Linked DNA regions of Homo sapiens: regions 2, 3, 4, 5, 6 and 7 are each reported to be linked to region 1. Evidence: microRNA targets listed by miRTarBase, many of them from high-throughput screens and not tested one by one. Region 1 holds a microRNA gene; each other region holds the end of a gene's coding sequence. Distances are between the middles of the regions.
What was found. Region 1 holds the annotated microRNA hsa-miR-665 (ACCAGGAGGCUGAGGCCCCU, at 3,262-3,281, shown strand). A microRNA usually pairs through its seed, bases 2 to 8, with sites in the 3' UTR of a target mRNA and lowers its output. Matches are read on the target gene's strand: a 7mer-m8 pairs with bases 2 to 8, a 7mer-A1 pairs with bases 2 to 7 and ends in A, and an 8mer does both.

Region 1 (4,618 bases):
GTGTCCCATGGAGCTCCTCCTCCTGCCATGTGTCATCCTCAGCTCCTCCTCCTTCCTGTGTGTCCCATGGAGCCCCCGCCTCTTCCCATGTGTCATCCTCAGCTTCCTATCCCTTCCGTGTGTCCCATGGAGTCCCTCCTCTTCCCACGTGTCATTTTCAGCACCTCCTTCCTCCAGGGTGTCCCATGGAGCCCCTCCTCTTCCTATGTGTCATACTCAGCACCTCCTTCCACCTCCTGTTCCATGGAGCCATTTCTCCTTCCATGTGTCATCCTCAGCTCCTCCTCCCTCCCAGGTGTCCCATGGAGCCCCTCCTCCTCCATCCTTGTGTCATGTTCGACACCTCCTCCACTCATATGTCACATGGAGCCTCCACCCATGTGACACAAATAATTTCTCATCTACTTGTATCACACTGAATGTTCTATCTTTCTTAAGGGTGTCACAGCAAGCCCCACTAATGTGTCACAGGACGCCCCTCTCCCACTCTTGTAGCACACTGAGCTCCTTCCACCACTTAGGTGTCACTCTGACCCTGTCCTCTGCGTGTGTGTCACTAGGAGCCCCACCCATTCAGCTGCACTCTAAGTTCCTCCTCTAATCATGTGTCACACATGTAGTCTCTCCCCACACTCATAAGTCATACAGAATGCCTCTCCCCATCCATGTATCACATTGAGTTTCTCTTCAACATGTGTTACTCAGAGCCCTTCCCTGACTCATGTGTCACCTGGAGCCCCTGTCCCTGTCCATGTGTTACACCGAGTTCTTTCCTGCTCATATGTCACATGAAGCTCCTCCTCTACTCACAAGGCACACAGCACCCCCTGCCCGTTTGTCGAATGGACCCCTCACCTCATGCATGTATAACACTGAGCCGCTCTCCCACCCCGTGTCGTACTGAGCTCCTCCTCCACTGATGTATTGCATGGACTCCTTCTGACACGCGGAGCCCTCCCTGCACCCTTGTGTCTCACTGGGCATCTCTTCCCAACCTTGTGTCCCGTGAGATCTTCCCCCACCCACGTGTCACATCAAGTCCTCTTTCTTGTGTTACTCCAAGTCCCTGCCCCCATATGTCACAGAGAGACTCTTCCCACCCACGTGTCACACCAAGTCGCCTTTCTTGTGTTACTCCAAGTCCCTTCCCCCCATATGTCACACAGAGACTCTCTTCCCACACACGTCACACTGAGCCCCTTTTCTGTCTCACATTCCACCTCTCCTTCACTCATGTGTCATGAGGAGCCTTTTCCCTACTAATGTGTCACCTGAGCTTCTCTCACATGTCACTTGAAGTCCTCCCCTTCCCATGCATCACCCAGAGACCTTCCCCCCACTCATGCATTGCCCTGAGCCCCTCCCTTACTTATGTGACATGGAGCCCCTCTCCACACCCATGTGTCACACCAACCCTCTCTCCACTGATGTGTCACACCAACCCCCTCTCCACCCATGCGTCACATGGAGCTCTTCCCCCACCCGTGTGTCACACCAGCCCCCTCCTCCACCCATGTGTCACACTAACCCCCCCCACCCATGTGTCACACCAGCCCCCTCCTCCACCCATGGGTCACACCAACCCCCTCCTCCACCCATGTGTCCCATGGAGCTCTTCCCCCACCCGTGTGTCACACCAGCCCCCTCCTCCACCCATGTGTTACAGGGAGCCCCTCCTCCCTCCATGTGTCTGTCAATCTGAGCCCCTTTTCCATTCATGTGTCACTCTGAGCCTCTTTCCCACCTCCATACCCTCCTGCCACCCCTACTTCTTAATCTTTAACCCCTTTCCCTAAAGGTTTCCCTCCATGGGCTCTTTCAGAGAATGTTATATTATCAGGTCATTTACTCACAGATATTTTTGCACCACCTACCACGTGCCTGGCTGCGTGTCCCTGTGCATGTGTGTTGGTGGTGTGGATGGCTGGAGAGTGTAGGACGAGGCAGGCAGTATGGTGGTTGAGAAAGATGTCAAAGAACAAAGGAAGGTGTTTTGGGGTACAACTTTATTGAGATGTAATCCACATACACACAATCCGCCCATTAAAGCTCACAGCGAAGTGTGTTTTAGTTATTCACAGATATCTGCAACTATCACCATAATCAATTTAAGATCATTTTCATCACCCCCAAAAGAACTCCAGAGCCTTCAGCTGTCACCTTCACCCTCCATGCACACCCCCCAGCCCTCAGCAACCAAAAATCTACTTTCTGTCTCTGGGAAATTCTTGAAGTGCCCCTGGACTTCATGAGTCCTCACTGGGTCCCCAGAGGTGCCTGTTGCAACCCATTTCACAGATGTAGAAGGCAAGGCTGGAGAAGTACCAGGGAGTCAAAGCAGTGGGTGGGTGGGGTCGAGTCCCCGATGTCCACTCACAGACCTGGGCCAGAATCAGGCCTGTCTCCCCCTTCACCTCCCCATCCTCCGTCCCTTGGCCTGGCTGCACAGTCACCTGGGGGCTCTGTGGGGCTAAGGGAGGCCCAGGCCCTGGCCATAGGAGGCAGGTAGGGCAAGGCTGGGCAGGGTGGACAGGTACCCCAGCGCTGCAGGTGCCCAGCAGTGGGTGGCACTGCCTAGGCTGGCTGTCCCTTGCTGTCACTGCTCTAACCACTAGCAGCAGGCGTCCCCTCTGCCATCCGAGCGCTTGCACTGCGCTTCCGGGAGGAGGGTTGCGGCCCGTAGTCAGTAGTTGGGGGGTGGGAACGGCTTCATACAGGAGTTGATGCACAGTTATCCAGCTCCTATATGATGCCTTTCTTCATCCCCTTCAACCACGCGCAGCCCCCGGACCCTCCTCTGCACCCTTGGCTGCACGGGGACGCGTCCTCAAGTCCGCTGCTGTCCTGCCAGCCTCTTCCCGGCATGCTCCTTGGGCTCTTCTCTCTCTCTTCTGCAGCTCTCTGACTTCCTGGAGGGGAGGGCCTGGGGCTGGGCCATCTCTGAGGCCCCTCCTTGGCAGGGAACTATGCCCCTGGTGGGACACCCCCTGGGCTGACTCCACAGCCAAGGGCAGATAGGCCGGAGGGGGAGTTGGGTAGCCCTGGGGCTTCTCCCACTGAGGGGCTGGGGCTGTGCTCCCACACAGAGCCCTCCAAAGGGACCCGGCCCACAGGATGGATGGACAGACGTTGGAGAGATGGTGCCCCTTTGTGCCCAGGGTGGAGGGGGTGGGGCTTTGGCGGACCAGGGCTGGCCCTTTCTGTGCCCCAAGAGGAGGGTCTCCTCGAGGGGTCTCTGCCTCTACCCAGGACTCTTTCATGACCAGGAGGCTGAGGCCCCTCACAGGCGGCTTCTTACTCTCTCCTTAAACCTGTTCTGGAGACATTTCCCCTCTCCCCAAGGATTCCCAACTCTGGGTCCCCAGAAGCTGTCAGCTGGGCTCCCTTCTTCCCCTGTGCGTACCCTGCTCAGGCTGGGTACCTGAGGGTGCCCAATGGCAACATGAGCAGGGGGCACGGCCGTGGCCCCTGGTTCTTGGACCTCTGTCTTCTGCCTCTCTGACTAACTCAGGTCCTGTGCATGGCAGAGGTGACCCGCACCAAGCCCTGTGATATTGGCATCATTAACCCCATTAACAAGCCACGACAGCCAGCCCAGGCATGAGCATCGGGGCAGCAGGGCAGCCAGTGTGGGGAGAGAGGCCTTGCAGTAGCTGAGGCCATTAGAGAGGACAAGAGGGTGCAGGAGGGAGCATCCTCACCTCTGCCCTTCCCACTTACATCCCATCTCCCCTTCCTCACCCCTCCTTCCCCATGCACCCCTTCTTCCTGTAGGAGGGAGCACCCTCACCTCTGCCCTTCCCACTCACCTCCCATCTTCCCTTTCTCACCCCTCCTCCCCAATGCACCCCCTCCCTTCCTGCAGGAGGGAGCACCCTCTCCCCTGCCCTTCCTTCCCACCTCCCGTCTCCCCTTCCTCACCCCCGCTTCCCCCATGCACCCGCTCCCTTCCTGGTCTACCCCTCAGCTTCTGTGGTGTCAGGATGGGTATGCTTGTCTTTGTTGATCTCAGACAGGTGGACAGGGGTCTGGACGAGGCTTACTGTTTGGGTCTGAGGTCAGTGCTCATGGGCTTGGGGCATGACAAGGGTCTTGTCGTCCCCGCAGCAGGGCTCTGAGCGGGTGGGTGGAGCTTGGGAGTGGGGGTGATGGCTTCTATTTGTTGTCTTTCTCTTTTTCACTTTGGGAGCAACCGGGGTCACCAGGTGGGCAGGAGGGGACCTCACGTCTCTGCCCTGGGCAGATTGTTAAGAGCTGGTCAAGCTCCTGGCACGGGGGCCTGAGTCCAAGGCCCTAACTGGACCTGGGGCCGCCTGCAGGAGGGATGAGCGAGTCCGGACCCGAGCGGTGAGTAGCCCTCAGCTGCCTGGGTGGTGTGCTGTTGAGTGTTCCAGAAACTGGCCCTGTGTGCACCAGGGCTGGAGGCTGGCACGTTGGGCATCTCATGGGGGTGGGCTGGGTCGGGAAGGGAGGTTGATGGACAAGACTCAGCAGGAGTGGAGCTCAGGGCTCCCTCCATCCCCTGACATCAGTGACCTGGGGGTGGACAGAGAAGGTGGAAGATGGGTGCATTTAGTTGTGGCCCGCCAGGTCCCGTGGGCCTGTGTGCCAGTGTCCG
Region 2 (4,618 bases), not on the chromosome of region 1:
TACAGTGGAATAGTACTCAGCAATCAAAAGGAAAAACTACTGATACATGCTACAGCATGAATGAATCTTGCAAACATCATTTTAAGTGAAAGAAACCAGACTCGGCTGCAAACTGTCTGATTCCATCTACATGACATTCTGAAATCAGATCATCGTTTTCTGGAATCAGGAGCGTGGGAAAGGACTGACTATAAATTAGCACAAGGAAACATTTTAGGATGATGAAAATATCTTCAGTGTGGTAGGGACATAACTATATACAACTGTTAAAACTCGTCAAGCAGTACACTTAAGACGGGTGAATTTTTTCATATTCAAGTTCTGCCTCAATAAAGCTGTTCCAAGAATGTTAAATATATTGAGAGATATATGCACAGAAAAGGACGCTATACTTGTCTCTTGCGGTAGGATTTTGGGTGCTTTTCATTTTCTTGTCTTTGCTTATTGAAATCTTGTAAAATTTCCACAATGATTATGTAGAGCTTTTGTAGAGAGAGAGAAAAACAACAATAAAATGCCATGATCATAAATAATTGGGTTATTCAACAAGGAATGTATTGTTCATTCAACATTGTTCATTGTAATGAAGCCCATTTAGACCGCCTCCTTCTCATCTATCTTTCATCAGTGACACTTCTGAGGGGTGAGCTGAGGAAACGGGTGCAAAAAGGTACAGAGCTTAATAGCAATCCTTTGTCCATCCAGCTCTGGGCTTGGCTCTCGCCTTGCTTTTTGGATGAATACACAGTAGACTAATGATAGGGGGGCTCTCATCTTCCTTTGCCAACTTCGCCCTCCATTCCAATGCAGATCAGCTCATGAGTCCTCCAGGCCCCAAGAGAGACTCCTCAGCACAGGGCTGGGCAGACTGTGGTTTGTGGGGTGCAGGCCCGGCATCCGCCTCCAGCTCACATTGGTCTGTTGGGTGCTGCCTGGTCTTGGTAAAGTCAAGAGGCCATTCATCAGTGGAGAGCCACAATGAGGGTGACCACTCATGCCGCACATGGCAGGACAGGACACAGAGTCCCTCCAGGAGGCCCTCTGGGTGGGGATGCTCAGTGTCAACAGGCCTCTGGCCCTTTTCCCCCATCACGCATGCCGTTCATCTCCGAACTTGCCGCTTATGAAAGGGCAGTCACCTTAGGAAACCCAGCCAACCTGGAGGTGGAGGATGGCGTGTCAGGAATGGTCCACACCACTTGCCCGTGGGCGCCTAGGCTGCACAAGGCCCCGTCAGGGTCCAGGTGTCAGAACATAGGAATCCAGTGAGGATAATAAATCTATAATTATAAAATAGCTTCATAAAAACATCTTGTAGAGGAAACATACAATTTTCTAGCCACTCTAGTCAGGAAGTAAAGCCCAGCAGAAGCCCAGAGCAGCTGGGGTGGGCACAGGGAAGTGAGACACATCACAGCTGTCCTGGAAGCCTCTGTTTTGTCAGCCATAAAGGGTAAGTTGGGAGAGACCCTGGTTCCCAACCTGGGGTCTCTGTCCTCAGGATTCACACAGGCACTATTGTCAGGAACTACTTCTAGCATCTAAAAACTCCATACATTATTCACAGTAGCCAAAAGATAGAAACAACCTAAGTGTCCACTGATGGATGAATGAACAAAATGAGGACTATCTAGACAATGGGATATTATTCAGCTTTTAAAATGAAAGAAATTCTGACACATGCCACAACATGGATGAACCTTGAAGACATTGTGCTAAGTGAAAGAAGCCAGTCAAAAAGGATAGTATTGTATGATTCCTCTTGTATAGAAGTACCTAGAGTGGCCAAATTCACAGACAGAAAGTAGAATAGTAGTTACCAGGGGCTAGGAGGAGAGGGGATGCGGTGATATTGTTTATAGATACAGAGTTGCAGTTTGGGATAATAAAAAATTCTGAAAATAGATAGTGGTAATGGTTACACAACAATGTGAATATATTTAATTCCAGTCCTGTACACTTAAAAATGGCCAAAATGGTAAATTCTATATTATTTATATTTTACCACATCCACAAAGAAACGAACTCCCCACATACCCACAATGTCTCACTGCTTCATTAAAGCATTGTCATGCCTGTTATCACTCAGATCTGAATGGGCAGGTATAGCCTCTGATTGATTTTTTAGAAGAAACAAAAATAACAGCAAAATATGTTAATTGTAACCTTCAGCGAGAGCTGAAGGAGTTTTTTGGGCAGTTATAACCTTTCAAAGCATGACATCTTTTGGGGGAAGACAAAGGGGCTGTGATGGAAAGGTTGGCTTGAGTGAGTACTTTGGTATCCCTACCCGCCCCCAGCCTCAAATGCTGATCTTGTACTTGGGGAGGCTATGCTAAAGGAGAAACACACCCCAGAGGAGACACCAGGTGGTGTCTTCAGACAATTCCCACCCAGCCATAGGGATAGGCATTTTGGGTTTGAGACGGCCCTTTCTCTGGCTTACTTTTAGAGCCTGGAGTCAGACTTCTTCACAACAAATAGCCCAGAACCAGCTGGGAACTCTCTGGCCCATATGACACATGACACTGATACAGTACCAGAAATGCATGGCACCAGCTAATACCACTGAGGGGCAGGAGGGCATACTCTCTCTCAGACCCTCATCCATCACCCCCAGAACCAGGACAAGGTCATGATGGCTCTTGGCAGCCTGCTCAGCACCAGGGCAAGAACAACTCAGGCTGGACATTACGAGAGTAAACACAATAGATTTCTTTCCCAGACCAAGAGCTTGGGCACCAGGAGTGGGCATTCTGGTTCACTGTTAGGCAAAAAAGCCTTTGGGGAAATTACCAGCTCTCCCGTCATCCCCACCTTCCTTGAAAGGCAGCATGTGGGGTGGGAAGAACAATCAGAAGACAAATTTTAATCTAAATCCTGCCCCTCTGTGGCCCTGGAAACTTGGCCCCTTTGAGCTTCAGTCACTTTGTGAAATGACAATAACATTCAATCTCCTTCAACCTCATTACTATGGATTAAATGAGACGGTGTCTGGGGACATGCTTGGAGAATGTATTGTACAACTGCTTAGGAATTTTCTTCTGCCCCTAAACCTGGAACTTAGAGTGGAGCAAACAGTAAACAGTCACTGTGTGTCGGTTAAGGGAACAGAGCCTCAGAGCCCCGACCCCTGGAAACGTTTCTTTTTTGTTTACTAAATTTCTAGCAACACCGTGTTTTCTACAGAGGTGGGGGGAAATGTCCATTTAAGTGCAAGATGAAGGGGCCTGTGAAAGGACCCTCCAAGGCAATCCCATGTGCTCCCGTCTCCTGGAAAGAAGCCACATTTCTTCAAGTTGATGCAGGGGTGTTGGGGGAAAGCCAGAGTAAACAGGGCTCTCCTGGTACCTCCTTAGAGTACACAAGTCATTTGTGCTGGGGAAGAGTTTAGTGTGTGTCCTTCAGGAGTCTCCAAATGGCACTCCGGCTGCAGCTTCAGTTGACCAACTTCTCCCTCCCAGGAAGCAGGGAGGAGAGAGACCTTGGGCAAGGCTTTGTACCTGCAGCCCCAGTGAGCAGATGTGTTTCCCAATGTGGAAAATGCATACCGTGCTTCCCCTTCCTCGTTGTCTATGAGTACGTAAAAGGACACCTCCTGTGGCCCTGCAGCATTACAATGTCTGTGGCATTGTAAGTTCTTGCCTTGGTCTGGGAGTCCCTCCTCTGTTCTCTAAGCTCAGACCCAGAGGGCAAGACCTAGAGTGCCCTGCAACTGAGGCAGCCTCCCCAAGGCTCGTTCTGAAGCTGCCGTCCTCTGAGGACAATGGCTTCTTGGAACTTCTTGGAACAAACAAGACAAACCAACACATTAGAGCCGGCAGCGGGGGCACACCGTGTTCTTCTAGAAAAGGATCAAGGGGAGTGGCTTCAGTAACGGAACATGAGGGACTCCCTCACATGGACACAAAGCATCAAGGGACAGGCCGGCTTTGCTTTTCGCTTCTTCCTAGCTGCCTAATTAGGACTTACTCAGTTCACAGTGTTCTACCTTACCGGGCCCTCTTGGAGCCAGCTGGAGATGATAAAAACCACACAGGTATTGGAGTCAGATAGCTTCACATGCCATTTCCACCTGAGAAACTTGGGTGAGTCACATCTCTCCAGGCCTCAGTTTTTGCATCTGTAGAAGGAAGAGAAGACAACCTATCTCCAAAGCGTTGTGACAATTCAGTGAGATGATGTTTGTCAAGCCCACCACACAGGGCAAGTTGGTTCCTTCCCGTCCCCCGCATTTGCCTCTACTGAGGGTGAAGGCAGCAGAGAAGACATCACCAGCAGCTGCCCACCACTGCCTGGCTCTGGAGAGGGAGGGACCACGCATCCTCACCTAACCACACCAGGCCGCTATCGCCTGCATGTATCTCGTGTCCAATCGGGGCCCTGAGGCAGCGTCCCGCCCTCCCTGGACCCCCTCAGATATCCCAGGCTGGAATGGTGAGGGGCAGGTGGGAGCAGCCAGGCCCTTCCCTGGGCAAGCCGTGGTGAGCCACCCGCCCATTCCGCAGCGGGAGGCGGCCGGGCCTGGGGGCCCCACTGCTAGGGCCCGACTCAGAGGGCAGCCCGGAGTCGCTGGGCCGCACCACCACGAAGACCCGCCTGTGCAGAAGCCCGCCGG
Region 3 (4,618 bases), not on the chromosome of region 1:
AGATCATGGTGTGACTCTACTCTTCCTTCAGTCCTAGGAGACCAAATGTGGCTCAGAGCCCTACCCCTTCCTGGCCTTTTCCCCCTTGCACAGTATGACCCCAGATGAGGCCTGTCCTCTTTATACCTGGAGGTAGTAGATCGAAGATGAAAAGTGGGGGTGGGAAGCGGAGAGGGGCTTCCTGCCAGCCAATCGGGACGCGACCGCCCAGGCTCCCAGCACAGCATCATCTGCTCCTGCTAAGACAATCATCAACATAAAAGGCTAATTGTATTAATCACCAAGGCACCCGGCCCGAGTCCCCCTCCCTTTGGGGAGAATTATGAATTGCAATTGCAGATGGCTCCACTGATTGAAGGCAGTGCTCAGCAGGGAGAAGGGTCAGATCAGATTATACACCATTAATTAAAAACTTCCCTGACAAACAGGAGGAAGGGAATGCACACCAAGGGCTGGCCTGGTTGGGTCTCTGTCCTCCCCATGTCCCCTGCCCCCACCCAGGCCCAGGGGCTATGCCAATGAAGCCTGCTTCCCCCAGCTGGAGCTACTGAGATTCAGCTCTCCAAAGGCCAGCCCTTCCCTCATCCAAACAGATGGCCTGCTGTCCTATTAAAGGGCTCCAGAGGAGGGGAAGCGAACCTTTGGTTACTTATTTCCACGTCTAACCTTGGATGCTCTTCAGAGGCTAACCTAATTCCCCACTTCTCAGGAAACTTATTTCCTCCTGCTCTGTCCTGACAGAACTGCTTTGAAGAACTGTTAGTGAAAATAGCCCCTCAGCTTTCTCTTCAGGCAACCCCTCATATTTTGGCCTGTATGTTCCTGGGACAGACATTGTGAAGCCTGCTCTGAAATTGTGGGTGGAACAGCAAATATCTGGCGATGCACCCTCTCCCCAGCCCCTGCCTGGAAGCATAGGCTTCTCAGCTGCTGTCATACTGGCTTATTTGGAGCTGTAACTCCTGAAATTTTCTCCTCTTGATCTATTACTGCCTCCCATCCTCCCCAACTGCCCAGCCTTATTCATTCATCAAACTTATATTGAGCACCCAGTGTGTGCTTGGCTCTGGGGACAAAAAGCAGTGATCATTTGTCAAGGAGCTTAAGAGCCTACCATAGGAGCTCCACGCCCCCATCCCCTTCAATCCTCTAGTTCCTGTTTCCTTCCTTCCTGGGGCTGCAGCTTGTATGAACCCCCCAGGAGCTCTATTTTGGAAAATTCTCAACTGGGAGCTGGGGAGACCTTAAGTGTTCGTGCTCCTGAACCAGGTGACCTTGAGCAAGTCAATCATGTCCTCTGTTTACACATACGCTCTCATACATGCATACATACAGACACCCAGCTCTCCCTGCTCATAAAAGGACACAGGCAGCCTTGGACTCTGAGAGATTGTGAAGATGGATGAGTGGGGCCCAGCTTGGAGAGATGTGAGTAGTATCTGCGCTGATATTACAGAACGCTGAGCACAGCTACTGGGGCTATGAGCACCAGGGATTCAGCTACTGCACTGGTCACAGGCTGGGCCTGCCACACTGCCCTTGGAAGACTTGGGCAGCCTTTCCCCCATCCCCAGTCCCTCAGGAGACATCACTAAAAAGGATCTATCTTTTGTTTGTATTTTAATTTAATTAATTTTTCATTTTAAATAATAGAGATGAAGTTTCACTATGCTGCCCAGGATGGTCTCAAACTCCTGGCCTCAAGCAATCCTCCTGCTTGGGCCACCCAACATGTTGGTGATTACAGGTTTGAGCCGTCATGCCTGGCTAAGTTTTTAATTTTTTGTAGAGGCAGGGTTTTGCCATGTTGTCCAGGCTGGTCTCGAACTCCTGGCCTCAAGCGATCCTCCCACTTTGGCCTCCCAAAGTGTTAGGATTACAGGTGGGAGCCACTGCACCAGGCCAGGACCCATCTTTTGTTTTGTTTTTTTTGTTTTTTTTTTTGAGACAGAGTCTTGCTCTGTCACCAGGCTGGAGTGCAGTGGCGTGATCTTGGCTCACTGAAACCTCTACCTTCCGGGTTCAAGTGATTCCCCTGCCTCAGCCTCCCAAGTAGCTGGGACTACAATCACGCGCCACCACGCCCGGCTAATTTTTTATATTTTAGTAGGGACAGGGTTTCACCATGTTGGCCAGGATGGTCTCGATCTCCTGACCTCGTGATCTGCCCGCCTCAGCCTCCCAAAGTGCTGGGATTACAGGCGTGAGCCACCGTGCCTGGCCGCCAGGACCCATCTTTTATATGAATTTGGCTGCTGCATCTTAGGGTACCATGGTGATGGGCGTCATAGAGATGAGAAGAACTGATTTTATTGGTTCGCCTCTTCATTCCAGGGCCCTCCCACAGCCCCTCACACCCACAAAGCCTCAAGGTCAGCAGACCCAGGAGAAGAGCACACAGGGTCCCTGGTTAAGTAGATCCAATGATGTGAGAGAAAACCCAGTCTCTCTTCCCTCCCTCTCAATCATCTTTCTCTCTCTCTTTTCCCCTCCTCCCTCTCATTACCAACAGCAATTGTCTTCATACCCAATAATTACAGTAACAGCAACAATAATCATCATTTATTGGGGTTGTTTTTCTAGCATTTTAACTTCTGAAAGTATTTTCCGATTTCTTGATTTCACAGCAGTCCCTGGAGGAGGATTGTGTGTCCATTTTACAGCTGGAGAAGCCGAGATCCAGAAAGGACCCCCAAGTTGTGGGCAGAATAAATCTACAGCAGCTTTTAACTATTAAACCAACTTAGATTTTGGTAGTCTTTCAGAGGCACTGAATCTCAAATCTTAGTTTCCTGGGTCCCTCCTGGGTTCCTACCACCCTTAGGGCTTATTCAACAGCTTTCTGGGGATCCTGTAATGCTGACAGAGAGCCTGGAGACGGCTTCTTTGACCCAGGTCATGAGTCAATGGCTAGATGGGCACTTCCCCTCTGAGGATTGTTCCTGCCTGAGAGTGGGCTGTGGGGTGGGAGCTGGGGCAAGCACCTGGGAGGAGGCTTCCCTGGGAAAGGCCTGTCTGGCTCAAACCTCCCTTCCTCTATCCCACCTCTCTACGAGCCTGAGAAAATGTTCTTCTCTGTGTCAGTTCTTCTCAAGGGTGGGGGCCTCTCCAGAGCATTTGGAGGATTGAGGAATAAAGACCTATTGGGAGAGGCCGGGCACGGTGGCTCACGCCTGTAATCCCAGCACTTTGGGAGGCCGAGGTGGGCAGATCGCCTCAGGTCAGGAGTTTGAGACCACCCTGACCAATATGATGAAACCCCATCTCTACTAAAAATACAAAAAATTAGCTGGGCGTGGTGGCAGGCGCCTGTAATCCCAGCTACTTGGGAGGCTGAGGCAGGAGAATCCCTTGAACCCAGGAGGTAGAGGTTGCAGTGAGCCGAGATCATGCCACTGCACTCCAGCCTGGGTAACAGATCAAGATTCTGTCTCAAAACAAACAAAGATCTATTGGTAGAGCAGTCTCTGTCCTCAGGAAGCCCCCAGTCTGAAGGAGGAAATATAGCCCCCAAAACCACACCCAAGGTCAGAGAAACACCCCCAGGAGCTCAGAGGCTGTCCCAGGGCCTGATTCCTCCAGAAAGCCTGTCCTCTCTGGACCAAGGGTTTCCTGGGTGGGTAAGAAGCTGGGGCTCCCTGAGGTCCCTATAGCTCCCATGTCTAAGCAGAGTGGCTGTCTGGGCTCCCATTCCTTTCTCCCCCAAGACTTGGGCATCTGGGGTCAGGACTCCTACGGGGTCCAGTGGGTGAGAGGATGGGAGGGCGATCCTAAATCCCCTGCCTTCCTCTGCTCTGTCCCACCGAGAGGTGGGGAAGCCCTACAGAGAGGGAATGGGACAAATTCACTCCCAGATTCTACCTAGAAACGTAATGCCAGGGATAGGGCTTGTCCCCTCCAGCCCACCTGGTCAGGACAAAAGGTCAAGCCTCCCCCTCCCGCCACCCCCAGGGAGAACCTCCAGGCAGGTCCTGCAAGGCAGGAAGCCCAAGGGCGCGGCCAGGCGTAGGCTGTTTCACACACTCTCCATCTCCACGGCTCCCGAACCCGGCTGGGATTCCTTCTTCAGGGGCTCCGCCCCTGCCCCTGCCCCTGTCCCCACCTCTACGGTGCCTGTGAGGATAGCCAGCCGCTGCGCCAGGGTCTTGGTGTCGGGGAACAGGACGAAGTTGTAGATCAGTGAGGCCAGGAGGGCTCCCATCAGGGGCCCCACCCAGAAGACCTGAGGAGAAGGATGTCGTCACCCCACCCAGGAGCTATCAGGACCACAGGGTGGCTCTGGGACCGCTGCCTGCTTCCCCAGTGCCGACTTGATCTCCCAGGTCTCCCTCAACTGTCTGTAAGGTGCTAAATTTGAGAACCACGAGTCGTGTTTCCCAAGCCCACAAGGTAAGGGGACCTTGCCCCTTGCTCTCCCTGCCCTCCCTGGGGCTGAGCCCAGGCTCTGCAGCCGTGGCTGGGGCCTGGGGCCAGTCTCCTCACCCGCCCCCGCCTCTTTCCTCTCACTTCCCCCGTTTTAGCCAGGAGTCCTGGCTATTGCTGTTTCTGTCTCTGCTGGTGTGTGTGTCTATTTCTGTTTGTCTTTTTCTTTATCCAAGTTTGAAAATTGGTCCAGCTG
Region 4 (4,618 bases), not on the chromosome of region 1:
TTCGTTCCCCTTGCCCACCAAGACTCCAGAGCAGGTGGGTTCTTGATGTCTACTCTGCATGAAGCCCTGGGCTTTCCGGCCCTCCCTACTTTTCCTCCGAATTCACAGCACAGCGGAGCCAAAATGTATTCCTGCCAAAACGGGCATTTCCCAAAAGAAAATATTGTTTTAGATTCATTGTTCACAGCCTCTTTTTTTTTGTTGTTCATTTGAAGCAATTTTTCTTTTTTATTATTATACTTTAAGTTTTAGGGTACATGTGCACAGTGTGCAGGTTAGTTACATATGTATACATGTGCCATGCTGGTGCGCTGCACCCACTAACTCGTCATCTAGCATTAGGTATATCTCCCAATGCTATCCCTCCCCCTCCCCCCACCCCACAACAGTCCCCAGAGTGTGATGTTCCCCTTCCTGTGTCCATGTGTTCTCATTGTTCAGTTCCCACCTATGAGTGAGAATATGCGGTGTTTGGTTTTTTGTTCTTGCGATAGTTTACTGAGAATGATGATTTCCAATTTCATCCATGTCCCTACAAAGGACATGAACTCATCGTTTTTTATGGCTGCATAGTATTCCATGGTGTATATGTGCCACATTTTCTTAATCCAATCTGTCATTGTTGGACATTTGGGTTGGTTCCAAGTCTTTGCTATTGTGAATAATGCCGCAATAAACATACACGTGCGTGTGTCTTTATAGCAGCATGATTTATAGTCCTTTGGGTATATACCCAGTAATGGGATGGCTGGGTCAAATGGTATTTCTAGTTCTAGATCCCTGAGGAATCGCCACACTGTCTTCCACAATGGTTGAACTAGTGTACAGTCCTACCAACAGTGTAAAAGTGTTCTTATTTCTCCACATCCTCTCCAGCACCTGTTGTTTCCTGACTTTTGAATGATCGCCATTCTAACTGGTGTGAGATGGTATCTCATTGTGGTTTTGATTTGCATTTCTCTGATGGCCAGTGATGATGAGCATTTTTTCATGTGTTTTTTGGCTGCATAAATGTCTTCTTTTGAGAAGTGTCTGTTCATATCCTTCACCCACTTGTTGATGGGGTTGTTTTTTTCTTGTAAATTTGTTTGAGTTCATTGTAGATTCTGGATATTAGCCCTTTGTCAGATGAGTAGGTTGCGAAAATTTTCTCCCATTTTGTAGGTTGCCTGTTCACTCTGATGGTAGTTTCTTTTGCTGTGCAGAAGCTCTTTAGTTTAATTAGATCCCATTTGTCAATTTTGCCTTTGGTTGCCATTGGTTTTGGTGTTTTAGACATGAAGTCCTTGCCCATGCCTATGTCCTGAATGGTAATGCCTAGGTTATGGTTTTAGGTCTAACGTTTAAGTCTTTAATCCATCTTGAACTGATTTTTGTATAAGGTGCAAGGAAGGGATCCAGTTTCAGCTTTCTACATATGGTTGGCCAGTTTTCCCAGCACCATTTATTAAATAGGGAATCCTTTCCCCATTGCTTGTTTTTCTCAGGTTTGTCAAAGATCAGATAGTTGTAGATATGCGGCGTTATTATTTCTGAGGCACAGCCTCTTTCTTTCGTCTCCCTTTCCTTTCCTCATCTCTTGCTCTAATTGGAGAATTTGACAACTCTGAACCTCTGACTGTGGATAACCCCAACTCCAGCAAGCCTGGGCAAGAGTGGGACAGTTGCAGCCCAAGGTAGCCAAACATCTGAGTTTTGCCTAGTAACAGATCATGGAGAGGTCAGACCAAGAAGTGGAAGGAAGTGGCCGGCCTGAGGCCTTTGTTTGGGCCACTCAGGGTTGAATGAAATGATAAAGGTAGCCACGTTGTCTGGATGCGCTTCAGGTAATAATTATTCTCTAAGGAAAGCAGTCATATTTATATCCATAAAATCAGTTTATTAAATTACATAGCAATATACATCCCAAACCTTTTCTCAAAATTGTCATTAGCTTTTTAAATTCGTTAAATATTTTCATCTCATTAAAAATGGTTTCTTCCTTTAAAATTTCCCAGAAAGTGTGGCCTCTGTTTTCTGCTACTCAGTTTAAACACATCATCAAGGATAGATAATTAATGTCAGGTGAGCATAAAAGGAGATTATAAACCAGAAATGTGTTTTCTGGGAACCAAGTTTCAAGTGACTCAGATAAGTTTTATTAATTTCATGGGTGAAGCCCCTGGATAAAGCAGTGCCTAAATCAGGCTTGTTTACCCTTGGCATTATGTCACCAAACACTGTTTCAGGATACTGGAAGTACATACAGCTTGGGAGGTCTTTGGCCTGAGCCTGTTTTGGCCAAGCCCATCCAGAATGAAAAGTACAAAAGAAGGCTAGTGTGTGTGCAAAGCAGCATGGCTTATTTTGAGGTCCTATTAGTTGTGGGCCAACAAAACAGTGGCAGGATTTGAAGGAAGAAATGTATTGCAATAGTCCATATCCTTCGAACCACAAAGGGAGACTGAGGAAATGCTGGCTTTAGGCCAAAAAACCCTGGCTCAAAACAGCTTCCTCCAGTGGCTCAGAGGCAGACCAAATTCATCAAGTCAAGGACCTTTTCCTGCTACCACCTTGCGGAGAGGGGCCTTCACCAGCCCACCCTGCACATGGGTTTCTGCTGTTCAGAACCTACCCAGTAACAACAGGAGCAAACATACATGTTTTCCCCTCATGTAACTTTGCATTTAAATATATTCTGGGAAACTGCTGGGCACAGTGGCTCACACCTGTAATCTCAGCACTTTGGGAGGCCAAGACAGGAGGATCACTTGAGTCTAGGAGTTCAAGACCAGCCTGGGCAACATAGGGAGACCCTGTCTACAAAAAATTTGAAAATTAGCTGAGTGTGGTGGCACTCACCTGTAGTCTCAGCTACTCAGGAGGCTGAGGGGAGGGATCGCTTGAGCCAGGGAGGTTGAGGCTGCCGTGAGCTGTGATCCTGCCAGTGCACTCAGCCTGCGTGACACAGTTTGGAAAACTGTCTCTCTCTATGTATGTATCTGTTCAGGGAAATGGCAGCGTGAGATTTTATGGCAGTTCTTGAGACTTCAGAAACACTTCGGCACCAGCCAAATCCCCCCAAGAGAGCAAGGAACACTTTTCCAGTTGCTTAAAAAATTTAAAGTTATAATGAAAAATGTTGTAAAAAGAACTACAGAGGCTGGGTGTGGTGGCTCACACCTGTAATCCCAGCACTTTGGGAGGCCAAGGCGGGTGGGTCACGAGGTCAGGAGTTCAAGACCAGCCTGGCCAAGATGGTGAAGCCCCGTCTCTACTAAAAATACAAACATTAGCCGGGCACGGTGGCAGTCACCTGTAATCCCAACTACTCGGGAGGCTGAGGCAGGAGAGTCGCTTGAACCTGGGAGGTGGAGGTTGCAGTGAGCTGAGATCACTCCAGCCTGGGTGACAGACTGAGACTCCGTCTCAGAAACAAAACCAAAAAACTACAGAATAGAGTAGGGGTGGAGGGAAGTCATGCATTTCCAGTGGCTAGCACTTTGCGCTCTGCCTTGGCGAGTATCTGCAAACTTCCTGACCATCAAGTGCGCTTGCAGCCATCCTGGATGTCAACTGGCCACAGACCCTTTGCTATGGGGAGTCCCTGGCTACATCCATTAGCAAGTCAGAGGTTTCCTTTTGTCCCCATGATGCCACTCTCCAGCAAGCTCAAACTGCTGTCACAATTGTTTTACTGTACCTAAAAAGGAACAGATAAGGCAAGAGCCACAGTCAATGTTTTCTGTGAAATGGTCTTGGCAAATAGCATTAAGAAATCTTGTTGAATTTCAAAGAAAAGGTCTGATTAGAGGTGCCTGTTGGAAGCAGAAGCCTCAAGAAATGAGGAAGGAAAGTTAATTTGAGGGTCTGTTTCATTTCTGATACAGAATAATCACAAAAACAAGTATATGCCGCTGGCTGTAGCTCCCCTTAGGATTTGGATAACCAGCTGGATTTCCAGATGGCCACTCCCGTTCTCTATGCTTCCCTCCTCCGGGCTATATCCTGCAGAGCTTCAGCGGGAAGTTCTCCGTGATGAGGTGGTCAGGGTGAAGCAGCACCACGATGTTAACCTCAAATTCTGAGAAGAGAAGAGAGGGTGGGTTTGTGCTCACTGTTACCAAGCAGCGAAACCACACGCCGCCACCACTGCAGTCGCAGGAAGCTCTAACGGCGAAGGAGCACCCGGTGCGGGTGGGTTTCATTGCTGTCCCCTCAGCGCCACCCTGACCTTTCAGCCAAACTTTCAGTGGAGATGACTATGCTGATGTCTGACTACCTCTGTCAACTTTCTCTAAGTGAATTTTTGTCCTCTCATCTTGGAACATGAGTGATCAGGCTTCACCAACTACACTTTCCCTGTCCCTTTGCTTTCCTAAAAAGGATATTCTAGAACCCTTTCAATTCATTTGTATTCCTTTGCCTTATTTTTACATTTCCTACGGTTCTTAATGAAATAGCAGACTGTGAACCAGCGCATAGCTGTCTGGGCCCATGTCCCCAATCCCCAGGTGAGAAACAGTCTTCAGAAGCAACAATTTCATTGTTGCTCCATTGGATACTATTCATCCATCACCTTTCAGCAAACAGGATTCCTTCTCCACCGACTCTTCAGCTGATATGGGTGAGCCTTGTT
Region 5 (4,618 bases), 36 Mb from region 1:
CTTCCCTTGTCTACAAAATGAATTCCCAGCAAATCCCATTCCAGGTGAAGTTTCACAGGACATTAAGAAATGTACCAGAAAGCGGTCGGGCACAGTGGCTCACGCCTGTAATCCCAGCACTTTGGGAGGCCGAGGTGGGAGGATCACTTGAGGCCAGGAGTTTGAGACCAGCCTGGCCAACATGGCAAAACCCCATCTATACTGAAAATACAAAAAATTAGCCAGGCATGGTGGTGCGAACCTGTAATCCCAGCTACTCGGGAGGCTGAGGTGGGAGAATCGCTTGAACCCGGGAGGCAGAGGTTGCAGTGAGCTGAGATCACGTCACTACACTGCAGCCTGGGCAAAAGAGCACGACTCTTGTCCCAACCCCCCTACCCCCCCTGCCAAAAAAAAAAAAAAAAAAGGAAAAAAAAAGTACCAGAAGCAATTAACTCTGCAAACAGGGCCTGGAGGATGCTGTGCAACAGGAACTGACAAGTGCTTACAATGTGCCAGGCCCTGTACAAAGCATCTTAGATGATGTGTTTGAGTAATTCCAGAACCGCCCTCACGAGGTAGGTACCAACAGTGCTCCTATTTCCATGGTGAGGATGTGGAGGCAGGGAGGTGGGTGAGGCTCTCTGCCATAGAGCTGGGGCTCTGCACTGTGACCCCTTTGCCATATGCCTCTCAAGGCAGCGCTATCATTTCTGTGGACTGTAAAATTGACTGTATTACAACATTGACATGGACCTAGGGAATTAAAAATAATAAAACCAAGGTCACTGGGAAAAATACTGCTTTGCCAACATCAGCAGTGTTTAGCACTGGCGCCAGTGGGATGCAGCATCCTCTGGAAGGATCCAGTGGAGGGAGACAAGGGGAAAAAGGGAAGGAAACAAATGGGAGAGGAAGAACAGAGATAGAAGATAAAGAACAAGAAGAGAAGGAAAAATATTTGATTTATTTTTTTAGACAGAGTCTAGCTCTGTCTCCCAGGCTGGAGTGCAGCAGCATGATCCTGGCTCACTGCAACCTCTGCCTCCTGGGTTCAAGCAATTCTCGTACCTCAGCCTCCCAAGTACCTGGGGTTATAGGTGCCTGCCACCACACCCAGCTAATTTTTGTATTTTTGGTAGAAACAGGGTTTTACCATGTTGGCCAAGCTGGTCTTGAACCCCAGACCTCAAGTGATCCGCCCACCTCGGCCTCCCAAAGTGCTGGGATTACAGGCATGAGCCACCTCCACGCCCAGCCAGAAGAGGAGGAAAAAAAATATTAGGTTGGTGCAAAAGTAATTGTGGTTTTTACCAACCTAATGTTTTAGGAAAAAGAAAGTCTGGGCCAGGTATGGTGGCTCATGCCTATAATCCCAGCTACTTGGGAGGCTGAGGCAGGAGAATCACTTGAACCCAGGAGACGGAGGTTGCAGTGAGCTGAGATCGCGCCACTGCACTCCAGCCTGGGCGACAGAGACACTGTCTCAAAAAAATAAAAATAAAAATAAAAAGTCTGTAGGGAAGGGTGGAGCCCAGGCATTTAGAAGAAACTCAATGAATACTTGCTGCACCAACAGAATAGAGGCTCACCTAAGGCTAATGCTGCATGACCATCCTTCTTGAGCACTCTAAACATAGACAGTGCTAAAGCTGTGACAGAAATGGGAATTCCAAGGAAGTTCAGGCAAAAACTTGTATAAGCAATACTTCCTCAGGGTAGAAAAACAAAATTCAACAATATAGAAAGGTATAAGATTAAAAGGTAAGTCATCAACTTCCAACCCAACCCTCTCAGGAGGTCCCCTGAATTATGTGTCCTCTCAGAAATACACAAGCATGCATACATTTCCCTCTAAACACAACAGTATCATAAAGGGCACACTGCAACTTGCATCTTCAGCCCAAGGGTCTGCCTGACAAATGAGCTCACAAAGGATGGCAGAGACCTGTGGCACAGTCTGTTAAGGCTGTAATTCATATTGCAACACCAAGATGGCAAACTTGTTTCCTTTTATTCTGTGGAACGTCACTAAAGTAAACAGACATGCATGATTTATGTTAATTTATACATGATGAGAATTAAGGCTGAAAATGACTTCTGGGGAAACTCCTACTATTAGTTTCAGATCTTCTGGGCAGGGGCTGACTTCTCTTGGCTTACTTATACTTCCTAACTCCCAGTGGGCCTGAATAGACACTGGCCAGACTTTCAAAGTAGCTTCTTGAAGATGGATGGTGATCTGGAAGGAAAAACAAGAAATAAATGTTTTCTCTAAGCAAGCACTGAAATGTTTCCTGTTCCTTCCATACTGCACCATTACCCACTCACATTGCCAAAGCTGTTAACATTTACATCCTTTCCTGCCACCAGCTCTTCTAGGGCGTGTCCATAAATGGACTTGAAAATGATGCATGGTATTTCCATAGTACTGTGTGAATACTGTTCAAGACCAGACCAAGCCGTGAGCCATGACTGCATTTCGAGTATCACACATACCCTCTCAAAGAATAGTGTTCTAGCATCAAACTACAGTTTGCTTCTACTTGGACCTTAACTTTCTCAAATAATGCAAGAGCTTTTGTTTTATACTATGACCCTTTGATATCCTTGTCTTTTCTAGCTTTTTCTAGTTTTTCTCAGGTGCTCCCCCAACCTGTTCCACACAGGATTTGTAACTTCAGGTCATTTGCATGGTTATCAGAATGCCCCTTCGCTAATGTCCAAATGAGGGTTCAGTTTCCCAAAACTCACGTCTTCCTTTTTTCTTGGTTAATTCCTCATTTTGCTAAGTACATTGCTAAATAACTTCTTAGGAAGAGATGTGGGGTGGCAAACCCTTGCACGTCTGAAAATATCCAGATAGATTCGGCTAGGTGTGAGCACATGTTGAAAGTCATCTTCCCTGTGACCTTACAGGACACTCCTCCATTGTCTAAAAGCTTCTTATTGCCAGTAAGACGGGCGTTAAGTCTAGTTCTCATTCTTTTCATAGGCAAGCCACTTTTTTCGTCTCTGGAGAAAGATGTTAGGATTTTCATGTTTGATATTTTTGCAGTTTCAACAGGATGTGTCTAGGGATATAAGTGCACACTGCAACTTGCTGCTTCAGCCCCAAGGGTCTGCCTAAGGAGAGACACGTCCTGTTGAAATTTCAAAAATATCAAACAATGCAATGTCACTCATTGCAGTCGGTACTCAGGGCCCTTTCACCTAAGGCCCTAAGAACTGCCAGATTGGTCCTGTTTCCTTCTCTTTTCTATTATACTTCCTAAGACATTTGCTAATTCTTGCCTTCTAACTACCTATTCAGAGTATACAGACCGTCAGCTGTTCCTGACCTGCAATGTGTCATCAACTCTGAACCCCAAGCCTCCTGGGGCTTCAGCAGAGGGAGTCTAACCTCTCCTGTAGTTTCCTCTGTAGTTTATTGGACAGCAGTTTTCTCCCCTACACTGTCAACCTGTGACAAGCCATGCTGCGCTTCTTCCAAAAATGTGTTGAAATATAAATATTTCAATTCATTGGTTATTGCCAACTCTCATTACTATCCCCTCTCCCCTCAGGGAAGTCTGAAAAGAAATGTTTTGAAAGCATTAGAATGTGAATTTTTATAGCGTCAGTTTGAGCCCTATAATTCATAAATAAGCTACATGAGGAAAAAAGCCAAATTATTACCCAGTAACAACTTACCTGTTTAGAATAATCCATTCACCTGTTCTGTTTCAGGGTCCAAATCAATATCATAAAAACAGGGCCGGGTGGGGAGTCCAGGCATTGTGCTCATCTAGGATGTAAAAAAGCATTACAAATAAACTAATGCTGGGCACAGTGGCTCACGCCTATAATCCCAGGCTGAGGTGGAGAGGATCACTTGAGGCCAGGAGTTCTAAACCACCCTGGGCAACATAGTGAGACCCCCATCTCTACAGGAAATAAAAAATTAGCTGGATATGATGGCATGTGCCTGTAGTTCCAGCTACTTGGGATGCTAAGGCAGGAGGATTGCTTGAGGCTAGGAGGTTGAGGCCACAGTGAGCCATGATCATCCGATTGCCTGGGCGACAGAGCAAGGCCATGTCTAAAATAAACGTAAAGTCATCTTTACTTTCACTTTTCCTTCAGAAAGAAAGCCCAAGGCATAAAGATAGAACATCATTTTATAGTTGTCAATAAAGTGGGTACTCTTGTTACATATTAAAAATCAAGTCACTGATCCTGTTAAAAAACTCAGAAACTGATCCCTGCCGGGCGTGGTGGCTCATGCCTATAATCCTAGCACTCTGGGAGGCCAAGGCAGATGGATCACCTGAGGTCAGGAATTTGAGACCAGCCTGACCAACATGGTGAAACCCCATCTCTACTAAAAATACAAAAATTAGCTGGGCATGGTGGCGTGTGCCTGTAATCCCAGCTACTTGGGAGGCTGAGGCAGGAGAATCGCTTGAACCTGGGAGGCGGAGGTTGCAGTGAGCCGAGATCTTGCCACTGCACTCCAGCCTGGGTGACAGAGCAAGACTCCATCTCAAAAAAAAAAAAAAGGAAAAGAAAAGAAACTGATTCCTCATGTCCTTCTGCAAACCAAATGCCAGCCTTCACTATCATCTTCCATGTGGTCACAAGCAGTAGCAGGAGGTGT
Region 6 (4,618 bases), not on the chromosome of region 1:
ATATAAAACATCTAGACTAGGCAAATCCATAGAGATAGAAGTTGATCAGTAGTAGCCAGGGGCTGTGGGGAGATAGGAATGGGAAATGACTGCTAATGAGTATGGGGTTTTCTTTCGGCAGGGGAGGTGATGACAGTGTTTTATAATTAGTAGTGATCGTTGCACAACCTTGTGAATATAACTAAAAACCACTGAATTGTATACTTTAAAAGGGTGAGTTTCACGGTAAGTGAATTGTATCTCAGTATAAAAGTTAGATGATAAACACTTCATTCATGATTTCTAAAAAATGTTTTTTGAGTTCATGGGATGAGACTCATCATTTGAAACCATGTAGGTATAGAAAAGAGGGAGACTAGGGTTCACTGGGTGCTTCAACTGTGCTATATTGTTTATTATTATAGAAAACCTATGTCAAGGCAGGTATTATCCTTACATTAGAGATAAAGCAGGCCTCACAGATTTTGTCCAAGGTCGTGAAGTCCAGGTTTGAACTCACATCCCTCTGAGTCACATGTTCTTAACATTATACCCACGTGGGAGGTAACAAATGCTAAAGACATGCATATATAGAAAAAGATAAGTTATTTATGATTTTTCCCCTGAAATTGTTATTTCTTTCTTAGAGGCTGGAAAAAATTCAAAAGGTCCAGTTAAATTGCACTAAGGTGAAGAGTAAGCAAAGTGAGCCCAGCAAGCACTCAGGGTTTTCTACCTCAGACAACAGCATAGCCAACACTCCCCAGGATTACAGTGGGAATATGAAATCATTTCCATCCCGGAGCCCTTCACAAGGCGATGAAGATTCTGCTCTGATTCTAACCCAAGACAATCTGAAAAGTTCAGATCCAGATCTGTCAGCCAACAGTGACCAAGAGTCCGGGGTGGAGGATTTGAGCTGTCGGTCTCCAAGTGGTGGTGAGCATGCACCGAGTGAAGATAGTGGCAAGGACCGGGATTCTGATGAAGCCGTGTTTCTCACTGCCTGAAGTTTCCCTTTGGAGTTCCAAAGTAAAGGACACATAAGCAACACTTCCAAAAACAAGGGAACAAGGTGGTTTATTGTAAAAACAGGAAATGGTGCATGTCATTGAGAACTACTTTAATGCAGCTATGAAAAGGGAAAAAAGTGCCCAGTTCTTGATTTCTTAGATACTGAAGAGGACGTAGTCATTTCATTTATCAAATATAAGGAAAATTATTCACCATTTTGAAGCTCACCCTAGACTATGAAAATTATATTCACTGCAGAGCAATTACTTCTGTCATTACCTGAAGTGATCAGTATCTATCTTCCTTGTCATAGCATGCATCTCTCAAAAAGCCTCCACTCCTTTCCCTCACATCTGTGATCATCATGATTCTTTTAGTTCACTTCTAGATGCATATTTTGTGTTTTCTAAAGCATCTGACATTATCCTCCTTTCCGACCCTCTTATACATATTTCTAAAAACAGGCACATTGGTGAGATGCACCCTTTTTAGTTAATAGATGCATTCCTAAGGAGCTTTTAATTGCTTATCTTTCAGGCATAATCATCACTTTAACTTTTCCTTGGAGCATATATTTTGAATTGTGAGAATAATTTTGTTGCTTTTCTCTGAGATCTATAGTCTGTTTCTCCTCATTATTTAAAAATGCTAAACCTTGTATCTCACTTTTTCTCTAACACTGATTTAATAGCTAACGAGGTAGAAGCAACATTCATTCTCCTGGTCTTACATATGAATTTAAGTATCAGCTTTCTTGTAATAACCTTTTATTACTGTTCTAGAGACTACACTACCGACAGTGTGGGCCAGCCACCAGCCTGATCTCAAAGTATCACATTATAAAGTTAGTAGATAAAACATCTGTGAGTGAAAATCCAGTTTCAAGAACCAGAGAATTGGGTTGTCATGTCTGTTTAATGAAGGGAATAGGTTTTGTAATCTATCATTTTAGAAATTATGTAACTGGCTAATATGGTTTAATTAACCTTAGTAACATCTCATGACCACTGACTGCTGAAAGTTCTGAAAAGAATTTTTGTTTTGTTACACTGCACATTTAAGGGAGAGTCCCTCCCCTATCTTATGAGTTAAAAAAGACTTCACTAGGTGACCTAAATTAAACTTAGTGGGGAAAAGTGGCCATGTTTGGACATAAATAAATGGTATTCACACTGTATGGTTTTAATATATTAGTACATTCTAGAATGTAAAAGGATTAAACTTTACAATTTAGATCAATATTTTGAATATGTGAAAGGATTAATTTAAACTTTACAATTTACATCAATATTTTGAATATCTGATTTTTTTTAATGGGAGAATTATTACATTTCGCTGAAATGAGGACGAGGGCAAGAAAGCAACATTGCTGATCTCTCTAGTATGAAAGATTTGGAGGGAGTGTTGCAATATATATAAATGAAAACATTTAATTGTGTTCATCATATTTAAAAATATAGAATATATTAGAGAACTGTGATTTAAAAGTACTGTTAATGTAAAAAATAAAGCAAGTGTAATTAATTCTTTCAGAATATAAAATTTGGGCATTCTCTGCTGAGCAGTTCCCAAATTAAGTACAAGGAATGTTTATTCATTTTCTGCAATATACTATATGTAATAGGGAATACCTTGCTAAAATAAAACTTAGGATATAGTGGTAATGGCTTTCACATTTTTATAACATAACATAACTCACTTCACAACCTTCTTGGAGCTGTCCACTCTTAGAAACTCTGTTGCCTAATATTGAGGATGTGGCTTTAATTTCTTCCGTTTGACAGTGTATGTCTATAAAAACAATAAACATTTTTTAAAAAATGACAAAGTATCTATGCCAAACAGCACTATGCTTTTATTTGAAAAGCAAATAGTATAAATATTTGATGTTTTAAAATGTAGTTTTTTAATATGACAACTTCCATATCAGAGTCATAAACTTTTAGTCCCCTCAACTTTTTTACAAGACAGACATTATAATTTATGTAACATGTTCGTCTGCTTATTAGAAGTTAACCTAGCACTGAGATTTATATAAAAGGTTACATTTATTGCTTATTAAAACTTTACTGTACTTTCACAGATTCTTCAGAGCATGGCTAACCCAACAAGACTAAAATATCCCCAACAAGACTAAAATATCTAATAATCAAACATTAATCAGGAAGTGTTTTATTGAGAGCAGTGGTTTAAAGCATAGGGAATAATCCAGTATAAAACTGATTTGAGGCATATTACTTCCCAATTAGTAATATATAGAATGCAAGTAATTTATTTTTTAAAGTTGATATGAAATAAATAGGTAAGAATTTTGACCATGACCCAGCAAATCAGTAACTGAGCTTTTTATAGAATGGAAGGTGATGATCAGAGACAGAAACCATAGAATAAATTTTTATTCTTTAAGAGCACATTAGTTTACTTTCTTCTCCTAAAAATGAATCTGAGCTGTCCTTCAATTTAAGCATATATATGTGTCAAGCACCCTCTATTCTGATATAAATTTCCTAGTCTCAATTTATGCCTAGAAATTTCTTTCAACTTTGAAGTGGGTCTGTTTAGTTTATATCTCACTGATTGATTGATTTAGAATTTTCTTCTATTTTAAGATATTAACCTTTAAATCTCTACCTATGACAAATTCGTACACTGATTAGCCTAGTAACTCCTAAGTATTCCTCTTTAATTCTGATTTCTATCTCATCTTGTAAAATCAGAATACAAACTTTCACATGCATTTCATTTTTCCTGTGGCACTGCTTCTCCGATGTGACCAATTTTTATGAAGAAAATATATAGCCATAAAATTAGAAAAAATGGTCACTTAATCTCTGTTGCAAAAACAGAACCCACATTCATACGGGCATATTCAAATGCAGATTCTTTTCATCGTGGGTGACATACATAACCTTTATGTAAACTGATTTGTCTATTTGTTAAATGCAGATAACTGATCACACTGCTCTGTTTCATGACTGGGTTGTAACAAGGTTATCCAATGAATGGTATAGAATGAAACTGGGATAGTTCAACTTTAAAGAATAAAAAACACTGAGATGAACTACTCATGTGATTATGTAGAACATTTTTACTCTGTAAGAAAATGTTTCTTTTTTTTCTGTTTTTCTGGTGAAAAGGAAAGTAGATAAGCATCTAAACAATGTTTATCTTTGTATAGTATTTCCACAATGCCTTATTCCTAGTAGGTACTTAATAACATAGATAGATCAAATGAATTAATCAAATGAGGGGCTGTGGTATGCTCCTCCCTTGTTATGGGATACACCTACCTGGTTTCTAGGAACCTGATGGTTGGCAAAAGATTGAGACTGTTCTATCTCCCATTGCTGTAACTGCTGGGAAAATTAAGCTCTGGTGGCCAGTGCAGTATAAGGAAAGGTTTCTGAATACCCAAAAGACTATCATAAATTTGAAACACTCTTACCTCAGTTATCTACAAATCAGGAGTAATAATTAATTATTCCTTCCTCATCTGGTCACTTTGAAGCTTTAACAGCATGTCCTTAGCACAGTGTCAGGAAGACAATGAAAGTTATTTTCTGTATCCAACATTGTATCTCAGTCCACGTGAATACCTGCCCTCCACAAACAGACTAAATATTAA
Region 7 (4,000 bases), not on the chromosome of region 1:
AGTGCTGGGGAGAGGCTGCTGCGTCCTAGAGAGGGCTGAATGCAGTCAGAAGGCTGGGCTCAAGTCTCCCGTGTCCAGCTGGGTGGCCTTGAGGGTCGCTCCCCTCCCCGGGCTTCAGCTTCCTCATCTGTAAAATGAGGGCTTTGGCCTCTTCTCAGAGCCCTTCCTGTCCAAATCTGTGGTCCCAGGTGATGCAAAGTGGTGGCAAGGGGATTGGTCCCCTTGGGATGTTGGTGGGGGCACCACATGCCACAAGATGGGAAGATCTGGCAGATAACAGCTGGGAAGCAACTGGTGCAGGGCTTGGCCCCAAGCAAGAGTTGGAGAAGCAGCAATTTCCCTCCCCTTCCCTGCCCAGGACTCGGGAGATGCTCAGCTTCCTTTTCTTTTTTGGCTCTCCTGTGAACTCTAGCTGAGCTAAAGAAGGGCTGAAGCTCTGGCCCATGGTGGGAGGGACACATTCCCTGAAGCAGCTGAGCCCCCTGGCACGGCTTCACCAAGGGGACCCTGGCCCTGGGGCTGGCCCACCCCCTGCCTCTGTTCCTTCACTTCAAGCCCTGTGGGCTGGGAAAGGGGTCGGAACACGTCTGGAGCAATGGTGCCCAGATGGCACTCTACACAGGTGAGTGGGAACTCAGCCCCTGGACGTAACCCCCTTTGGTTTGAAATCTGGGCTCCATCACTTGCTAGCTGATTGACACCAGGCAGATGACATCACCTCTCTGTGCCCCAGTTTCCTCACCTGTCTAACGGAGCCAAGAACGTCCTAACTTAGAACTGTGTTGTGAGATCAACAGGACGGTGCCTGTGCCACACTCAGTGCAGTGCCAGATGGCAGGACAAACACGGGCTCCATCGTGGTTATCAGCCAGGAGCAGCTCAGGATGTGACTGGGCCATGTCTGACTCCTCTTTCCCTGTCTGCTTGGATGTGCTCAGGGGCAGCAGAAGATAGGAAAAGCGGGACCCAAACAGTGGTGCTGGGGAAATTTGTTCCTGTTCCCTTTGGAAGGCTGAGTGGGTGATGCAGCACAGGAACAAGGCTTGGACGTCAGAGGTCTCATCTTCACTGTGACAAAGCATAAAGGACTTGGGGTTGAGCGTGTGTGTGGGCTCAAGTGACCATGCAAGTGCTGTCACCTCCTTCCTAAGACCCCATCCTTCTCCCAAGTCCTCCACAAGAGCTACCTTCTTCAAAACAATAACAGAAACACATCAAGCTTGGCGTCACTGAAATTGAAGTTCTGAATTCTGCCGTCACCCCAGCAACAGTGCCAGTATGATGAGACACTTGACCCAGCACTTGGGTTGATGTCTTTGGCTGTTACCGTGGCAACCTAGGTCTCAGCAGGTCTGGCTGAAGCCCGCCATTGCCTTTTCTTCCAGTGGGATTGTACTGGAGGGGCTGGGCAATCTATTTATGTTCTCGAAATGGAAAGCAGGATCTGGGCGCGGGAGGCAATGCAACTTGGAGTAGCTTCCATGGCACTGAGCCCCCCGGCCTGCAGCTCTTGCATCATGTCTCAGGCTAAGTGGCCTCAGGGAGTGGAGATAGGGAACAAAAAGGCAGGCAAAAGGTACAGTGCCCACTTGAGCCAGGGAGCATGCAGCTGCTCAGACACCTGGTAGGTGACTAGCAGGGGAGGGACACCTCAGCTCTCCATTCTGCCGAAGCGCCCAGGGATCATAACCTCCTCCCCGCACTTCCTGGGGTGGGGATGCCAAGATGTTTGGGTGTTGCATAAAGGAAGATGTTCAGGTGTCATGTTGGAAAGCATCTGACCTCGCGGATGTCTACCTGCTTAGGTGTAGACTGAACTCAAAGGTCTTCAGGGGCAGGCAACATGGAGGGGGAAGAACACTGAAGAGGGAGTCAGATGCCCTGAGCTCTAGTCCTGGCTCTGCCCCATGCTCTGTGATCCTGTGCAGGTCACGTGTCCTCCCTGAACTCTTCCCCATTTCTCACAAGCAAGATGCAGCTGTGGTGCCAGATGGGGTGGCTTTTCTCATCTTTAAGATTATTATTATTTTTTTGAGATGGAGTCTTGCTCTGTTGCCCAGGCTGGAGTGCAATGGCGTGATCTCGGCTCACTGCAACCTCCACCTCCTCAGTTCAAGAGATTCTTCTGCCTCGGCCTCCCGAGTAGCTGGGACTACAGGCATGCACCACCTAACCAGCTAAGTTTTGTATTTTTAGTGAAGATGGGGTTTCACCACGTTGGCCAGGCTGACTTCGAACTCCTGACCTCAAGTGATCTGCCTGTCTCAGCCTCCCAAAGTGCTGGGATTACAGGCGTGAGCCACCGTGCCCGGCCTCTCAGCTCTTAAGATTCTGACACTCTCTTGGGGAAGCTGGTGATGACTCAAGGGGACCAGGAAGCCATCAGCCCTTTGAGACACTCTCAGACAGGCAAGGGTGCCAGGCTGGGTTGATCCAAAGGGAGCTGGTTTTTTACAATCCATGCATGAGGTTAGTCTGCCTTGAACCTTGCCCTGGACTCTGAGTCTCTGCTGACCCTAACCCATGACTGGCTGCATCCCATCCACTGCCGAGTCCTGGGATCTACCCCTGCGAAGCCCAGGGTCACCAGAGCTTTCCCCACATATCCACCTGGAATCACAGAGAAGCTCACACCCAATCTGGAGAGCAAATGACCAAAGCGAGGGCCTCAGCTCACGAATGAGGAAGGCCAGGCCCAGAGAGGGCAGGGACTTACAGAAGGCCACACAGCACATTAGCAGGGCTGGCTAGGAACCAAGGTCTTCTCCCTCTCACCCAGTGCTCTGCTCACTGCTTCATGCTTCTCCCCACCCTCTGAGCTTCTTCCTTGCTGCCCCAGGACCATGCACAGGGTAGGTAATGTGGCTCTGCCAGAGGTGGGGTCTCCTGGGCCATGAGGCCTCTACCTTAGGGCTGCTCCCAGCCCAGGCTGAAGCGGTCCAAGTCCTGTCCTTGGCATGGAGGGAGAGCGATGACTATACCAGTGGCCATCACTATGGGTGAGCACAAGGGGTGACTGCAGCCCTTTGGCCTCCTGGGGTCTTTGTCCCCTTCCCTCCAGGCTGGAGCTGGGAAAGGAATGTCCTGGAGACTGAGGTGGGGCTGGGCCAGGCATGGAACCAACATTCAAACCGCTACACACAAAGAGAGGAGGAAAGAGGAGGAAGAGGGAGGCATGGGTGGGGGGGGGGGGAGGCTCCATCGAGATCCCACTGCCCTTGACTGGCAGCTGGTGGAAAGAGGGAGGAGGGTAAGTCTAACCTCTGATGTCCTCGTCATCCCCTTCTACAGCCTGTTGTGGCCCTGAAGGGGAAGCCACTGGGCCTGTTGCATGGGGGACAAGGGGGCGGGCGGCCACCCCCACCACTGAGATAGTGGGGTCCCCCTCATACACAATCCTACCCTACTGGGGGTGCTGTCAAAATTAGTGAAATCAGATACAGTTGATGGGCAGGGAGGGTGGGGTAAGAGACAACTCCAGTGCAGTGCCAGGTGGGCAGGCTCCCACTGTTCACTTGAGACGCTCCTCCCCACTCAGGTGGGGACAGGGGACACACTCGCAGGGCAGGGCATTCTGGAGGTGTGGGTACAGGTGAGGGGAAATGGGAGGCACAGCCAGGAGTGGGGCAGGAGGGAAGGCCAGTGCGTGGGCAGGCTGAGGAGGGAATATGACCCCCCTCAAGTCCCCAAAGTGGCAGGCAAGGGAGGGGCCCTGGATGAGGTGGCCCCTCATGCCTTGGCCCTCCCCTTGCAGACATCGAAGGCAGCCTTTGTTGCACCCCCAAAGGCCTCCACCAACTTGTCTTCCCAGGGAAGGACGTTGCCCAGCAGTGGCGCAGTGCAGTTGGCAATGCCCAGGACCTGGGCTGGTGTCAGGGCGTGGTCCCACAGGTTAAACTGGGCAATGTCACCGACAAAGGCCTGGGTGGCATCAAACCGGCCACCCAGGGTATCCTGGGCCAAGACAGCAGCAGAGAAAGGAGAGGCATGGAGTGAGGGA

Region 2: miRTarBase lists NPFFR1 as a target of hsa-miR-665. Seed matches in the 3' UTR shown: 7mer-m8 at 2,742-2,748 and 8mer at 1,029-1,036.
Region 3: the mRNA of AQP6 is a reported target of hsa-miR-665. Seed matches in the 3' UTR shown: 7mer-m8 at 3,543-3,549 and 7mer-m8 at 3,358-3,364.
Region 4: miRTarBase lists VPS26C as a target of hsa-miR-665. The part of its 3' UTR that is shown has no 7-base or 8-base seed match.
Region 5: the mRNA of MTHFD1 is a reported target of hsa-miR-665. The part of its 3' UTR that is shown has no 7-base or 8-base seed match.
Region 6: the mRNA of MTMR7 is a reported target of hsa-miR-665. Seed matches in the 3' UTR shown: 7mer-m8 at 1,711-1,717.
Region 7: the mRNA of NPTXR is a reported target of hsa-miR-665. Seed matches in the 3' UTR shown: 7mer-m8 at 3,616-3,622 and 7mer-m8 at 869-875.

The regions. Positions count from the first base shown.
Region 1 is chr14:100,871,814-100,876,431 of GRCh38, forward strand. It overlaps MIR665 (microRNA 665), which reads left to right and starts at 3,220; the gene lies at 3,220-3,291. MIR337 (microRNA 337) reads left to right here and starts at 2,680; the gene lies at 2,680-2,772. RefSeq lists an enhancer at 1,859-2,028.
Region 2 is chr10:70,250,542-70,255,159 of GRCh38, forward strand. It overlaps NPFFR1 (neuropeptide FF receptor 1), which reads right to left. Exons shown (of 4, transcript NM_022146.5): 4 at 1-4,618. The coding sequence ends at 4,416. Among named protein-coding and RNA genes, the nearest start is that of PPA1, 19 kb to the left of the region's middle.
Region 3 is chr12:49,975,069-49,979,686 of GRCh38, reverse strand. AQP6 (aquaporin 6) reads right to left here. Exons shown (of 4, transcript NM_001652.4): 4 at 2,548-4,222. The coding sequence ends at 4,016. LOC105369764 (a long non-coding RNA gene) reads left to right here and starts at 4,182. Exons shown (of 3, transcript XR_001749143.2): 1 at 4,182-4,389.
Region 4 is chr21:37,221,564-37,226,181 of GRCh38, forward strand. It overlaps VPS26C (VPS26 endosomal protein sorting factor C), which reads right to left. Exons shown (of 8, transcript NM_006052.2): 8 at 1,859-4,063. The coding sequence ends at 3,981. It overlaps DSCR9 (Down syndrome critical region 9), which reads left to right. Exons shown (of 3, transcript NR_026719.2): 3 at 1-173. Among named protein-coding and RNA genes, the nearest start is that of DSCR9, 15 kb to the left of the region's middle.
Region 5 is chr14:64,457,362-64,461,979 of GRCh38, reverse strand. It overlaps MTHFD1 (methylenetetrahydrofolate dehydrogenase, cyclohydrolase and formyltetrahydrofolate synthetase 1), which reads right to left. Exons shown (of 28, transcript NM_005956.4): 27 at 3,673-3,766; 28 at 1,955-2,221. The coding sequence ends at 3,677. It also overlaps a transcript of ZBTB25 not described here. Among named protein-coding and RNA genes, the nearest start is that of AKAP5, 5.8 kb to the left of the region's middle.
Region 6 is chr8:17,296,233-17,300,850 of GRCh38, reverse strand. It overlaps MTMR7 (myotubularin related protein 7), which reads left to right. Exons shown (of 14, transcript NM_004686.5): 14 at 627-4,057. The coding sequence ends at 989. VPS37A (VPS37A subunit of ESCRT-I) reads right to left here. Exons shown (of 12, transcript NM_152415.3): 12 at 2,827-4,618. Among named protein-coding and RNA genes, the nearest start is that of VPS37A, 52 kb to the right of the region's middle.
Region 7 is chr22:38,818,880-38,822,879 of GRCh38, forward strand. It overlaps NPTXR (neuronal pentraxin receptor), which reads right to left. Exons shown (of 5, transcript NM_014293.4): 5 at 1-3,954. The coding sequence ends at 3,730. Among named protein-coding and RNA genes, the nearest start is that of NPTXR, 23 kb to the right of the region's middle.